Linked DNA regions of Homo sapiens: region 2 is reported to be linked to region 1. The links are microRNA targets in miRTarBase. Many come from high-throughput screens and were not tested one by one. Region 1 holds a microRNA gene; the other region holds the end of a gene's coding sequence.
Evidence for each region. Region 1 holds the annotated microRNA hsa-miR-371a-3p (AAGUGCCGCCAUCUUUUGAGUGU, at 3,723-3,745, opposite strand). A microRNA usually pairs through its seed, bases 2 to 8, with sites in the 3' UTR of a target mRNA and lowers its output. Matches are read on the target gene's strand: a 7mer-m8 pairs with bases 2 to 8, a 7mer-A1 pairs with bases 2 to 7 and ends in A, and an 8mer does both.

Region 1 (7,122 bases):
AACAGCTCATGTCTAATTCCAGCTCTTTAGAAGGCCAAGAATTTTTACACCAACCTTAAGGTGCCGCCTGAACACAAAAAAATTATCTACTCTATGTACTACTATCTATCTACCCCAGAAGGGGTATTCATGCATAGACCCAGCTACTGAAGCTGAGGAAAAATGCTTGAGTCCAGGAAGTGGAGGCTACACCTAGCTCGACAGAACCGCTACATTCCAGCCTAGATGACATGATCGTCTACAAAAAAGAAACTAAAAATGGCCCACCATTACCACGTAAAACTGTGCCTTAAGCTTTCTGCAATCCCAGCACTTTGGGATAAGAGATTGTTTAGGTTTCAAGACCAGATTGGGCAACATAGTGGGATCCTATCTCTAAATTTTTTAAAAAGTTATTTACCCAATATTCTTTATATGTCTGCATTCAGTCCTGTTTCCACAGCTGCTTCTGAAGCAAACAGCCCTGCTTACAAACCACCCCCACCTACACCCTGCTGGCCATACAGGCTAAACCCTAAACAAGCTTAAGAAACTCAACTAAAGGCTGGGCGCAGTGGCTCAAACCTGTAATCTCAGAATTTTGGGAGGCCAAGGTGGGTGGATCACTTGAGGTCAGGAGTTTAGTGAGACCAGCCCGGCCAACATGGGGAAACGCCATCTGTACTAAAAATCCAAAAAAAATTAGCTGGGCATGGTGGTGGGTGCCTATAATACCAGCTACTCGGGAGGCTGAGGCAAAAGAATCGCTTGAACCTGGGAGGTGGAAGTTGCAGTGAGCCAAGATCATGCCATTGTACTCCAGTCTGGCGACAGAGCGAGACTCCATCTCTTTAAAAAAAAAAAAAAACAAAAAAAAAAACACAAAAACAAAAAACCCTCAACTAACAATCCCCAAGCTGCCCGTAGAAAAGATGACAGGAGGCCCAGGTAGGTCAAATATAAAGAGAAGTCTTACTGGTTACCGTGGCGGACTCCCCACCAGTGGTGGCGGTATTGGGACAGAGGCTACAACTGCTTTATGAATTGCGGGTACAAATAGCAAAACAAAACTCCCTTGAATTTGAGATCTTACTTCAGTTCAGATACTGTGGAGTGGGCAAAGCAGCCGCAAGGGTTTGGAACACCTACAGGGGATAGGAAAACTTACAGGGGATAGTGGCCAGCAGACCCGGAAACCAGTGATAGGGCAAACAGCAACTAAGAACCTACTGAAGGCCCCACGTGGTGGCTCACGCCTATAATCCCAGCACTTTGGGAGGCCGAGGTGGGTGGATCACCTGGGGTCAGGAGTTCCAGAGCAGCCTGGCCAACGTGGAGAAATCCCATCTCTAAAAAATGCAAAAAATTAGCCAGGCGTGGTGGCTTATGCCTGTAATCCCAGCTACTTGGGAGGCGGGGGCAGGAGAATCGCTTAAGCTGGCAGAGGTTGCAGTGAACCAAGATTGCGCCATTGCGCTCCAACCTGAGCGAGAGCACGAGACCATCTGAAGCAAAAAAACCTTCCAAATATGAACTTAGGCCTGGCACTGTGGCTCACACCCATCATCCCAGGGAGGCCACCCAGGGCAAGACAGTAAAGCCCCATCTCTACTAAAGGAGGGATGTTTGATTCCCCCTAAGTTTCAGACCAAGCTGGCCAATGTATGAGACCCCAATTTCTACTAAACATTAGTGGAGCATGGCGGGGACACTCCTGTGGTGCCAGCTACTAAGGGTGGGGTGAGGGGGGGCTTATATGGGAAGATCTTTTGATCTAGGGAGCTCAGGCCTGCAGGGAGCTGTGATGGTGCCACCACACTTCAGCCTGGGTGGTTTTTATTTTTTGAGACAGTTATCGCTGTCACCCAGGCTGGAGTGCAGTGGCACAACCTCGGCTGGCTGCAAGCTCCACCTCCCGGGTTCATGCCCTTTCTGCCTCAGCCTGTGACTACAGGCACCCACCGCCATGCCCGGCTAATGTTTTTGTATTTTTTAGTAGAGATGTGGTTTCACCGTGTGAGCCAGGATGGTCTTGATCTGACCTCATGATCAGCCTGCGTCGGCCTCGGCAGTGCTGCCACTGTGCCCGGCCTTACTTTTTAAACTTGTTTGAAGTTTAAAGAGCAGAACTCTCAAAGAGCATAACTCTAAGTTCTAGCAGGGGTAGAAGGGAAGCACAAAATACTGACAAGTATTTTTAGGCAATGTACTTGGGTCATAGAAGAAGGTTCAGTAACGCCAGACATGAGGCTCATGCCTGTAATCCCAGCACTTGTGGGTGGCAGAGGAACCCAATAGACCAGAAACACATGATGTTGTTCACATTTTATTAAAAAAAAAAGTTAGGAAAAGTGAGACTGTGGCATTGTCCGTGTAGCAGGGTGGAAGCACTCCAGCCCATGCTCTGGCCAAACCCACTTCAAGCCTTACATGCATGCTGCCTACCAAATTCAGGAACAGGACCCCAAATTCCCTTTAAGGCCAACCAGATTCCCCCGACACCCCATCAAGCTTTTCCTGCCCTGTTCATCTGCAGGTGAACCCCGTATCCTGCCCACCCCAGAATATGCCAATTTTTATTATCTAAAATGGAGCATACAGACTGGTGCCCCGCAGAGAAGCCCGGGAACTCCAGGTCATAGCTGAAGCTGCAGTCAGACCCGCAGGCTCCCTTGAAGCAGGATGGTTCGTGATGCCCTACTCAAACAGGGACACCCCAAAATCGAAGCACTTCCCAGTACAGACAAAAAGGAAAGCGCCCCCATTTTGAGTATCCCAGTATGAGCTCCTCGCGAGGATCTGCCATCACTGTGACTTTCTTGCCTACAAGAGGTTGGCCTCCAATCATCCAAGCACATGTTAAATGTCAGCAATAAACTTGCTTGCTATGGGGGAAGAGGAAAGTTACATATCAATTATAACACCAACAGCAAAAAGCATTCCTTTCTTTGTGCATACAGCCCCTTGGTCACAGCTGCTGTTTTTTTTTTTTTTTTTCTTTGAGAATGAGTCTTGCTCTGTCGCCCAGGCTGGAGTGCGGTGGCGCGATCTCGGCTCACTGCAAACTCCGCCTCCCGGGTTCACGCCATTCTCCTGCCTCAGCCTCCCAAGTAGCTGGGACTACAGGCGCCCGCCACCACGCCCGGCTCATTTTTTGTATTTTTAGTAGAGACGGGGTTTCACCGTGTTAGCCAGGATGGTCTCGATCTCCTGACCTCGTGATCCGCCTGCCTCGGCCTCCCAACGTGCTGGGATTACAGGTGTGAGCCGCCGCGCCCGGCGCAGGCGCACAGCCGCCCTCTGAACCTTCTCTTCCTTTCACCATCTAACCCAGATTCCCTTAGTTGTGTCAGGTGAGAGCCCAGGAGGCCCCCTTCCCTTCCCCAGGTTTTCCGGAGCCATTACAGCCAGACGCTGTAAGGGACCTGTACCCAAGACAGTTTCCGGCTGGGAATCGAAACCACAGGCTCTTTAGTTCCTGCAGAAGACCGAGCTCCACGGCATCCGTTGATATGGGCGTCACCGGTGACGCTCAAATGTCGCAGCACTTTCCACTTGGACATCAGAATAGTGCTCCACATTTGAGGCCCACAGGGTGAGCAGCTCCATCTGCAAGAGCCCCGGCCAAGAAATTTATATCACGAGGAAACGGCCATAGGCAGGGTCTAGGGCCATCCTGCTACCCGCCCCCTCACCCAATCAAAATGGTATCTTCTCCGCAGGTTGAGTCTTCTCAAGCGGTAACACTCAAAAGATGGCGGCACTTTCACCAGAGAGCAGAAAGTGCCCCCACAGTTTGAGTGCCACAGGCTGAGGGGATGCGGCAAGGCGGCGATCGCAAGTGGAAGCACTTACCCATCAGAAGAGGCTTTTAAGCAAGGAGGTGGAGAGTAGCCCTTGATGAGCTGTTGAAGGTCTACAAAGCACGAATTTAACGACCCTTTCTTAAAAAGTAAAAAACAAGGCTTTCCACGTATAGATATTCAAAGCACTCCCCCGCCCATAGCCTCCAGATGCAAGCCATGAGGACTGAGTACAATGCAAGTAGGAAGGAACACGTGTGAGGGACAGTGGGGCCTTCGTCCTTAAGACTGAAAAAAAATCACAGAAATAGAACAAAAGTACAGCCCGGCTGGGCGGAGTGGCTCAAGCCTGTAGTCCCAGCTACTCGGAAGGCTACGGTGGTAGGATTGCTCTTGAGCCCAGGAGTTCGAGACCAGCTTGGATAACATAGAAAACCCCATCTCTCCTAAAAAAAAAAAAAAAAAAGCAGAAAAACGCACATGGGAATGGTGGTGCGCGCCTGTGGTCCCAGCTACTGGAGGCTAAAAGGGTGAGTCCCAGGAGGTCGAGGCTGCAAGGCGCCATCATCCTACCTGTGCACTTCATCCTGGGCGACAGTGAGATCCTGACCCTAAAAAATAAAGTAAAATGAAAGAAAATAAAATAACATAGCAATACTCACAGAGGCCAATGATACGTCCACACCTCAGGTCTGCCAGAAAGAACAAGGTTCACTGCAGCTGCGTTCTTATATAGGGTGAGAGCCCACTCAACTTTGATAGGATTAAAGCCCACCCCTTCCCACCCTCTCATTCCCCCTGGTCTCCGCCCCAAGCCACCCTGCTCCCTTTGATCCTAGCTTGCCTTAGTCAGACACACCTTCATAAACTTTTTCAAACACTGATTCAAATAGAAATTAGGTGATCCCTATTACTAGTAACGCCAACATGTATTCGTTATAAATACATTGGAAAACACAGAGAAATAACCAGAAGAAAATCATTCCACCAGTCATCCACTCAACAAATATTTAAATATAGTATTTTGGCAGAGCGCAGTGGCTCACACCTGTAATCCCAGCACTTTGGGAGGCCGAGGCGGACGATCACTTGAGGCCGGGAGTTCGAGACTAGCCTGGGCAACATGGCGAAACCCCGTCTCTACCAAAAAAATACAAAAATTACCCACGCATGGTGGTGTGCACCTGTAATCTCAGCTGCTTGGGAGGCTGAGGCAAGAGAATTGCTTGAACCCGGGAGGCAGAGGTTGCAGTGAGCCAAGATTGTGCCACTGCATTCCAGCCTGGGGACAGAGTGAGACCGTGTCTCAAAAAATAAATAAATAGGCTGGGCACAGTGGCTCATGCCTATAATGCCAGAACTTCAGGAGGCCGAGGCAGGCAGATCACGAGGTCAAGCGATCGAGACCATCCTAGCCAACATGGTCTCTACTAAAAATACAAAAATTAGCTCGGCGTGGTGGTGGATACCTGTAGTCCCAGCTCCTCGGGAGGCTGAGGCAGGGGAATTGCTTGAACCCAGGAGGCAGAGGTTGCAGTGAGCCAAGATCGCCCCACTGCACTCCAGCCTGGGTGACAGAGTGAGACTCCATCTCAAAAATAATAATAATAAATTTTAAAAAAATAAAAAAGCTGGGTGCGGTGTGGCTCACACCTATAATCCCTGCTACTCAGGGGGCTGAGGTGGGAGAATCCTTTGAACCCTGGAGGTGGAGGTTGCGGTGAGCCGAGATCACACCACTGCACTCCATTCTGGGCGACAGAGTGAGACTTAGTCTCAAAAAAAAAAAGAGAGGGAGAAAAGAAAAAAACAGTGCGGCAGTGAACATTTTTGAGAGCAACTTTGATAAAAAAGCGGAAACATTTCTGATTTTATTTAATGAAACCACTAGAGTTCCTTTGACCTTGAGGCATAGAGAGGAACTCAAAAAGGTGGGTGTTGGAGAGGTGAGGAGGGGCTTGAAAATGGTAAGTGCTCAAAATAATGAATGACTCAAGGAAGGGGAAGACTTGGGGCCCCAGGAGGCCAGGGTTTCCTTCCCATTTGTAATCCTAGCCAGCTGCGGGAGTACGTGCTCAACCTTTCTGGTTAAACCTAGTTCCTTCATCAATGAAAATGTACAGCATTTGCTGCAAAGGATGGCGAGAGATAGAAATGAGACAGCAAATAGCATGTTTGGCGAGAATCGCTAGAACCCAGGAGGCAGAGGTTGCAGTGAGCTCACATCACGCCACTGCACTCCAGCCTGGGTGATAGAGCCAGACTCCATCTCAAAAAAAAAAAAATTCTTGCTTTGATCTTTGTCAAGGTTGCGGGAGGTCAGTGCTTATGTCCTTACAGCTCAGCCATCCAGATTCCTATCTAACCTACTCACTCCTCTCACACTGCACCTGGATTTTCTGCTATTTGTGAACCACCTGGATGATCTCTCGGGTATTTCCTAGAACTCGGCTTTTTCTCATCACCTCATTTTGTCTTTGCAAATTTCTCCTTTAAGGGCGGCTTTCTTCTCCTGCCCTTGGGCCAGCACAGCGAGTTCATTGCTGACTTTTTTTTTTTTTTTTTGAGACGGAGTCTCCCTCAGCCACCCGGGCTGGAGTGCAGTGGCTCGATCTCGGCTCACCACAACCTTCGCCTCCCAGGTTCAAGTGATTCTCCTGCCTCAGCCTCCCGAATAGCTGAAATTACAGGCATGTGCCACCACGCCGGCTAATTTTGTATTTTTAGTAGAGACGGGGTTTCTCCATGTTGGTCAGGCTGTTCTCAAACTCTCAAACTCAGGTGATCTGCCCGCCTCGGCCTCCCAAAGTGCTGGGAATACAGGCGTGAGCCACCGCACCCGGCCAACGTTTGTATTTTTGAATATAAAAAATGTTATTAGTGCAATTGAATTTAATCAACATTCAACAAAGAGTATAGTCAAAGACGATTTTTAAGTGCATTTGAAAGAGGACTGCAGGCAGTGGCTCAAGCCTGTAATCTCAGCAATTTGGAAAGCTGAGGTGGGAGGATCTCTTCAGCCCATGAGTTCAAGGCTGCAGTGAGGCCTGATCCTGCCACTGAACTCCAGCCCAGGTGACAGAGCAAGACCCCATCCCTGGAAAGAAAGAAAAAAGAAAAGAAAAAAGATCCGCTGGGCACGGTGGCTCACACCTGTAATCTCAGCACTTTGGGAGGCCGAGGTGGGCGGATCACCTGAGGTCGGGAGTTCAAGACCAGCCTGGCCAACATGGAGAAACTCCGTCTCTACTAAAAATACAAAATTAGCCGGGGTGGTGGTGCATGCTACTCAGGAGGTTGAGGCAGGAGAATCGCTTGAACCCGGGAGGCGGAGGTTGTG
Region 2 (7,122 bases), not on the chromosome of region 1:
ATCAAGATGTCATCAGTGCCCCAGGAAACCCCTCATGCAACCAGTCATCCTGCTGTTCCCATAACAGCAAACTCTCTAGGATCCCACACCGTGACAGGTGGAACCATAACAACGAACTCTCCAGAAACCTCCAGTAGGACCAGTGGAGCCCCTGTTACCACGGCAGCTAGCTCTCTGGAGACCTCCAGAGGCACCTCTGGACCCCCTCTTACCATGGCAACTGTCTCTCTGGAGACTTCCAAAGGCACCTCTGGACCCCCTGTTACCATGGCAACTGACTCTCTGGAGACCTCCACTGGGACCACTGGACCCCCTGTTACCATGACAACTGGCTCTCTGGAGCCCTCCAGCGGGGCCAGTGGACCCCAGGTCTCTAGCGTAAAACTATCTACAATGATGTCTCCAACGACCTCCACCAACGCAAGCACTGTGCCCTTCCGGAACCCAGATGAGAACTCACGAGGCATGCTGCCAGTGGCTGTGCTTGTGGCCCTGCTGGCGGTCATAGTCCTCGTGGCTCTGCTCCTGCTGTGGCGCCGGCGGCAGAAGCGGCGGACTGGGGCCCTCGTGCTGAGCAGAGGCGGCAAGCGTAACGGGGTGGTGGACGCCTGGGCTGGGCCAGCCCAGGTCCCTGAGGAGGGGGCCGTGACAGTGACCGTGGGAGGGTCCGGGGGCGACAAGGGCTCTGGGTTCCCCGATGGGGAGGGGTCTAGCCGTCGGCCCACGCTCACCACTTTCTTTGGCAGACGGAAGTCTCGCCAGGGCTCCCTGGCGATGGAGGAGCTGAAGTCTGGGTCAGGCCCCAGCCTCAAAGGGGAGGAGGAGCCACTGGTGGCCAGTGAGGATGGGGCTGTGGACGCCCCAGCTCCTGATGAGCCCGAAGGGGGAGACGGGGCTGCCCCTTAAGTGTCGGTGAATAGTGAGGCTGGAGGCCGGAATCTCAGCCAGCCTCCAGCACCTTCCCTCTCACCATCCCACTGCCCCCTCGCTCCCATGTTTCCACCCGGCACCCTGATCCTCACCCGAATCTCCTTTTTTTTTTTCTTTTGAGACAGAGTTTCGCTTTGTCGCCCAGGCTGGAGTGCAATGCACGATCTCAGTTCACTGCAACCTCTGCCTCCTAAGTTCAGGCGATTCTCCTGCCTCAGCTTCCCGAGTAACTGAGATTACAGGCACCCACCACCATGCCCAGCTGCTTTTTTGTATTTTTGGTAGAGATGGGGTTTCACCATGTTGGCTAGGCTGGTCTCAAACTCCTGACCTCAGGTGATCTACCTGCCTCAGCCTCCCAAAGTGCTGAGATTACAGACATGAGCCTCCGCGCCTTGCCTCCTCACCCACCTCTTCACTCTGAATCCTCATGAGGCTTCTCAGCCCTGGATTTCCTGCTGCCATCCTCACCCAGCACCCACAACTAGCGCCTGGGCAGGGCAGGGCTGGCACCTCTCAACGTCTGTGGACTGAATGAATAAACCCTCCTCATCCACCCCTATTTATCTCCATCACCATTTCCCCCTCTTTCTTGTTCCTGGAAACGGCTGCTGAGTCTCCATCGGCCAAACTTATCTGCCCTGTGATTTCTTTGACAATTCTCCTTTTCCCCCAGAACCCACCCTGGGTTGACCAGAGTCTGGGAAGAAGGACAAGAGAACCCGGCAAACTCCCTCCTAGGATTAACTTTGTAAAGCACCCTTGCCCTGTAGCTGCAAGGGCTGTGGAACCTGGGCAGCCCGCAACCACCTTTAGCTCTGGGCCCCCCAGGCCAGCCTGGAGCATGGCTGGGTGGGGCCACCAGCCCATGCTCTCAGGCGGGCCTGTGATCTTTCCCAGGGCACATGGACTGTAGGCTGGCCCTGGCCCACACCACCACACTCTCCCCAGCCATGGACAGAGGCAGCCAGAGGCCTCACGGTTTCTCCTCCGAGTTTCTGGCTGGGTGTAGTTCTCAGAAACCCCAGTGCCTGCGTGTGTCCACTCGTGGGTGTGGTTTGTGTGCAAGAGCTGAGGATTTGGCGATGCTTGGGAGGGGTAGTTGTGGGTACAGACGGTGTGGGGGTGGGAAGTGGTGCAGAGACTGAAGAGGGTCAACCTGGGCATGGGGGACACAGGGACTGCTGAGAACGTGCGTGTCATCTTTGCTCTGATGGGGTGGACATAGCAGAAAATCTAACTCTGTCTGTAGCCCCATACAGAATGCCAGGGTGAGCACAGTGGCTGGTGCCTTTAATCCCAGCACTTTGGAAAGTTGAGGCAGGAGGATCGCTTGAGCCCAGGAGTTCGAGTCTGAAGTGAGCTGTGATTGCACCACTGCACTTCAGCCTGGGCAACAGAGTGAGCCCCTGTCTCAAAAAAGAAAAGAAAAAGAAAGCCAGGCTTCATGGAAAGATCGTATGTGTGACCCAAATATGAGTTCTTCAGCTCAGCCATGGTAATCCCTTCCTTGAAGTCTCCATTTCTGCAGTACACATGCATGTGCGCTCTCTCTCTCTCTCTCTCTCTCACACACACACACACACACACACACACACGCGCGCGCGCGCGCGCTCTCCTGCGAACAGAGGCAGGGGGAGAGGGGTTTGCCCTGGTCTCGGGGACTGGTCTGGCTGGCGCTTCCCCACTGCACGTTTCCAGGTTTAGTTTGTCTGTGTCTCCTCTTCCATCCCAGGGGCTGAGCCCCTTCCATCCTCCAAGAGGAACCAGTGAGAGTGAGTGAAGGAGGGGCCTGGAGCCAGGGACTTCCCCTGTGGGGCCTGGGTGGAGAGGGGAGAACTCAATGGTGCTGCCTTTGAGACCAGCCCAGGCTACAGCCCAGGAGCACACATGGGCCAGGGCAGTTGGTATTTCCCGAGGACAAAGAGGAAATTTTCAAAGAGGAAGTTGTTGAGTTAGAGCTTGCGGTGGCTGAGAGCAGACAGGTTGACCTGCAAAAAAAGACAGGGGAGGCATGTGAGTGTGACAGCCCTGCTCTGTGGCCTGGGCAGGAGATGGGGGAAAGGGTCAGGTGGGGGATGGGCTCGTGCAGTGGGAGAGGAGACGGAGGGAGGGAGCGGGAAGGGGCTTGCTTAGTGGGTGGGAAGAGCTGAGCTCGGATGGAACCAGCTTCTACCAGCCAGGCTGGGCACCCACTGGGCTGCATCTGGTGGCCTTTTCTGATTGCTATTTGGACTCACTGCAGCTGCAGAATGACAGAGGCCATGTCCAAAATCCCTTAGAGACACTGTTGTCTTAGAGTTGTTAAAATAAGAGCCCCCATATCAGGTTTAGAAAATACTGTCACCGAACGAACGTCGCTGTCCTCAGCTCCACCTCCCTTTCCTTTGACAGATATGGTTGTTTTCTAAGCCAGGACTGGTTTTAGTCAGGTCCTGGGCGAATCCTGAAAAAAAGAGGTAGTACGGGTAAGGAAGGCACCCAACAGGGCTTTCACAATCCAGAAAATATCAAAATATAAGTGTTAAAAGAGAGGCACAGGCCGGGTGCGGTGGCTCACGCCTGTAATCTCAGCACTTTGGGAGGCCAAGGTGGGCAGATCATGAGGTCAGGAGTTTGAGACCAGCCTGGCCAATATGATGAAACCCCGTTTCTACTAAAAATACAAAAGTTAGCCAGGCATGGTGGTGTGCTCCTGTAATCCCAGCTACTTAGGAGGCTGAGGCCAGAGAATTGCTTGAACCCTGGAGTCAGAGGTTGCAGTGAGCCGGGATCATGCCACTGTACTCCAGGCTGGGTGACAAAGTGAGACTGTCTCAAAAAATAAAAATAAATAAAATAAATAAAAGAGAGGCACAAACAGTGTTATGAATGCACCAAGGAAAATGGTGCATTCATAACTCTCAGGTGAAGCCTACCAAGCCATGCGTGTGTGCACATATGTGTGTACGTGTGCATGTGCGTGCGTGCATGTGCGTGCGTGCATGTGCCTGTGTGTGTATGTGTGCACATGTGTGTGCGCATGTGTGTGTGTGCGCGCATGTGTGTGTGCATGCATGTTCTCCCATGCATGTGTACTGTGGCAAGGGAGACTTTGAGGAAGAGATTCCAGTGGCTGAGCAGAAGGGCTCGCATTGCCCTGGCGAAAGGTTGGAAGGCTTCACCTGAGAGTGTGTCGTGGCCTTTGTCATATCCACTGCTTGATTCCTTTCTTTAAAAATTATTTTTATTGTTTTCTACATATGAGAACCACCACACCTGGCTAATTTTTGTATTTTTTGTAGAGATGGGGTTTCACCATGTTGTCCCGGCTGGTCTCAAACTCCCGGGCACAAGAGATCCACCTGCCTCAGCCTCCCAAAATGCTGGGACTATAGGCATGAGCCACTGCACCCAGCCACTGCTTCATTCCTGGTGGCTGCTGTGCCTGGCATGTTGCAGATCCTCCATGAATATGCATTTGAATGAATGAATGAATGAATGAATGAATGAATGGAGATGACGCCTCAGAGATTCTTTCTTTTGAGATGAGGTCTCATTCTGTCACCCAGACTAGAGGGCAGTGGTGCAATCACAGCTCACCACAGCCTCAACCTCCTGGGCCTCCCAAGTAGCTGCGATCACAGGTGTGCACCAACATGCCCAGCTAATTTTTTTTTTTAATTTTTAATTTGTACAGACAGGGTCTTGCTGTGTTGCCCAGGCTGGTCTCAAACTCCTGGGCTCAAGTGGTCCTCCCACCTAAGCTTCCCCAAATACTGGGATTATAGGTGTGAGCCACTGTGCCCAGGCTTGCCTCAGATATTTGAAGGCTGGGAAGGATTTTGCAAAGCTGGGAAAAGGAAAAGGCATTCCCAGCAGAGGGGATAGCAGGTGGAAATACATAATTAAAAAAAAAAAACGTGGAGCAGATCCAGCGCAGTGGCTCATGCCTGTAATCCCAGCACTTTGGGAGGCAGAGCAGGGAGGATTGCTTGAGTCTAGGAGTTCAAGACCAGCCTGGGTAACATAGAAAGACCCTGTCTCTACAAAAACACAAAAAATTAGCCAGGCGTGGTGGTGCATGCCTGTAGTACCAGCTACTTGAGAAGCTGAGGCAGGAGGACTGCTTGAAGCCAGGAGTTTGAGACCAGCCTGGGCAACATAGTGAGACCCCGTGTCTACAAAAAGTAAACATTTATATATATATTTTTTAAAGTGGAGCAGTTCAATATAGAGTCTTTTTTGAACAAACGTGAAATAGATGTCTTTTTTTTTTTTTTGAGATGGAGTTTTCACTCTTGTTACCCAGGCTGGAGTGCAATGGCGTGATCTTGGCTCACCAGAACCTCCGCCTCCTGGGTTCAAACAATTCTCCTGCCTCAGCCTCCCAGGTAGCTGGGATTACAGGCATGCACCACCAAACCCGGATAATTTTGTATTTTTAGTAGAGATGGGGTTTCACCATGTTGGTCAAGCTGGTCTTGAACTCCCGACCTCTGCTGATCCGTATGCCTCGGCCTCCCAAAGTGCTGGGATTACATGCGTGAGCCACCGTGCCCGACAATAGATGTCTTTTAATTTTCTGGAGGAAAAAGCAAAGCAAAAGAAGCAGTGGATATTTTAAGACTAAAAAGGAAAACAAAAAAAGGAGATAGAGCAGGCCAGACGTGGTGGCTCAACGTCTGTAATCCCAGCACTTTGGGAGGCCGAGGCAGGTGGATCACCTGAGGTCAGGAGTTCAAGACCAGCCTGACCAACATGGTGAAACCCTGTTTCAAAATACAAAAAATTAGCTGGGCGTGGTGGCGGGCACCTGTAATCCCAGCTACTTGGGAGGCTGAGGCAGGAGAATCCCTTGAACCCAGGAGGTGGAGGTTGCAGTGAGCCGAGATCACGCCATTGCACTCCAGCCTGGGCGACAAGTAAAAAACTCCATCTCAAAAAAAAAAAAGGAGATAGAGCAAGGAACAGTAAGAAAATAGTTGGGTGCAGTGGCTATGCGGTGGCACTATAGGAGGCTGAGGCGGGCAGATCACCTGAGGTCAGGAGTTGGAGACCAGCCTGGGCAACATAGACCCCTATCTCTACAAAAAATTTGAAATATGAAAAATTAGCCAGGTGTAGTGGTGTGCGCCTGTGGTACCAGCTACTCAAGAGGCGAAGGCAGGGAAGATTGCTTGAGCCCAGGAGTTTGAGGCTATAGTGAGCTGTGATCATGCCACTGCACTCCAGCCTGGGCAATAGTGTGAGACTCTGTCTCAAAAGAAAGAACATGGCCAGGCGTGGTGGCTCACACCTGTAATCCCAGCACTTTGGGAGGCCGAGGCAGTCAGATCATGAGGCCAGTTTGAAACCAGCCTGGCCAACATGGTGAAACCCTGTCTCTACTAAAAATACAAAAATTAGCCAGGCGTGGTGGCATGCCCCCGTAATCCCAGCTACTTGGGGGTCTGAGGCAGAAGAATTGCTTGAAACCGGGAGGCAGAGGTTGCAGTGAGCCGAGATCGTGTCATTGCACTCTAGTCTGGGCGACAGAGCAAGACTCCGTCTTGGAAAAAAATTTAAAAAAAGAAAATATAAAATATGGTATAAGATTAAATATATTAGTTATGAAAATAATTGTAAATGGCTTATTGAACTTATAGTCAGTAAAAATCATGTTTTTGAAAATTATGTAATGACTTTGGAAAATACCAGCAATATAATGTTAAGTGGGGAAAAAAGCAAGTTACTCCTCTGTAATACATATGATTTTAGTTTTGTAATAAAAATTCCCAACCATATATGCACTTATAGGGAAACAAAGGACCCATCGCAAATGTTTTCCATGCTGATCTCCAAAGTGGTGAGTTTATGTGTGATTTTTATTTTGTTTATGCTCTTCTGTATTTTCCGAATTTCATACAATAAATATCTGTTACTTTTACAATATGAAAAAATAGTGGTCAAAAAGGTGTTCAAGGGGGTGGCCTGGGGGTGTCTGGTTTGAGGAGAGTGGTAGGGGATGAGGCTGCAAGTGGAGGTTGGAGCCATGCTATGAAAAGTTCAAGAGTTTGAATTGAGTTCTGAGGTTTGTTTTTGTTTTTGTTTTTGTTTTTTGAGACGGAGTCTCACCCTGTCACCCAGGCTGGAGTGCAGTGGCACGGGTTCATGCCATTCTCCTGCCTCAGCCTCCTGAGTAGCTGGAACCACACGCGCCCGCCACCACAC

Region 2: miRTarBase lists SPN as a target of hsa-miR-371a-3p. Seed matches in the 3' UTR shown: 7mer-A1 at 5,917-5,923.

What each region holds. Positions count from the first base shown.
Region 1 is chr19:53,784,339-53,791,460 of GRCh38, reverse strand. MIR371A (microRNA 371a) reads right to left here and starts at 3,786; the gene lies at 3,720-3,786. MIR371B (microRNA 371b) reads left to right here and starts at 3,719; the gene lies at 3,719-3,784. MIR372 (microRNA 372) reads right to left here and starts at 3,571; the gene lies at 3,505-3,571. It overlaps MIR373 (microRNA 373), which reads right to left and starts at 2,756; the gene lies at 2,688-2,756. It also overlaps LOC124904767.
Region 2 is chr16:29,664,026-29,671,147 of GRCh38, forward strand. It overlaps SPN (sialophorin), which reads left to right. Exons shown (of 2, transcript NM_003123.6): 2 at 1-6,851. The coding sequence ends at 906. Among named protein-coding and RNA genes, the nearest start is that of SPN, 4.3 kb to the left of the region's middle. RefSeq lists a silencer at 207-326.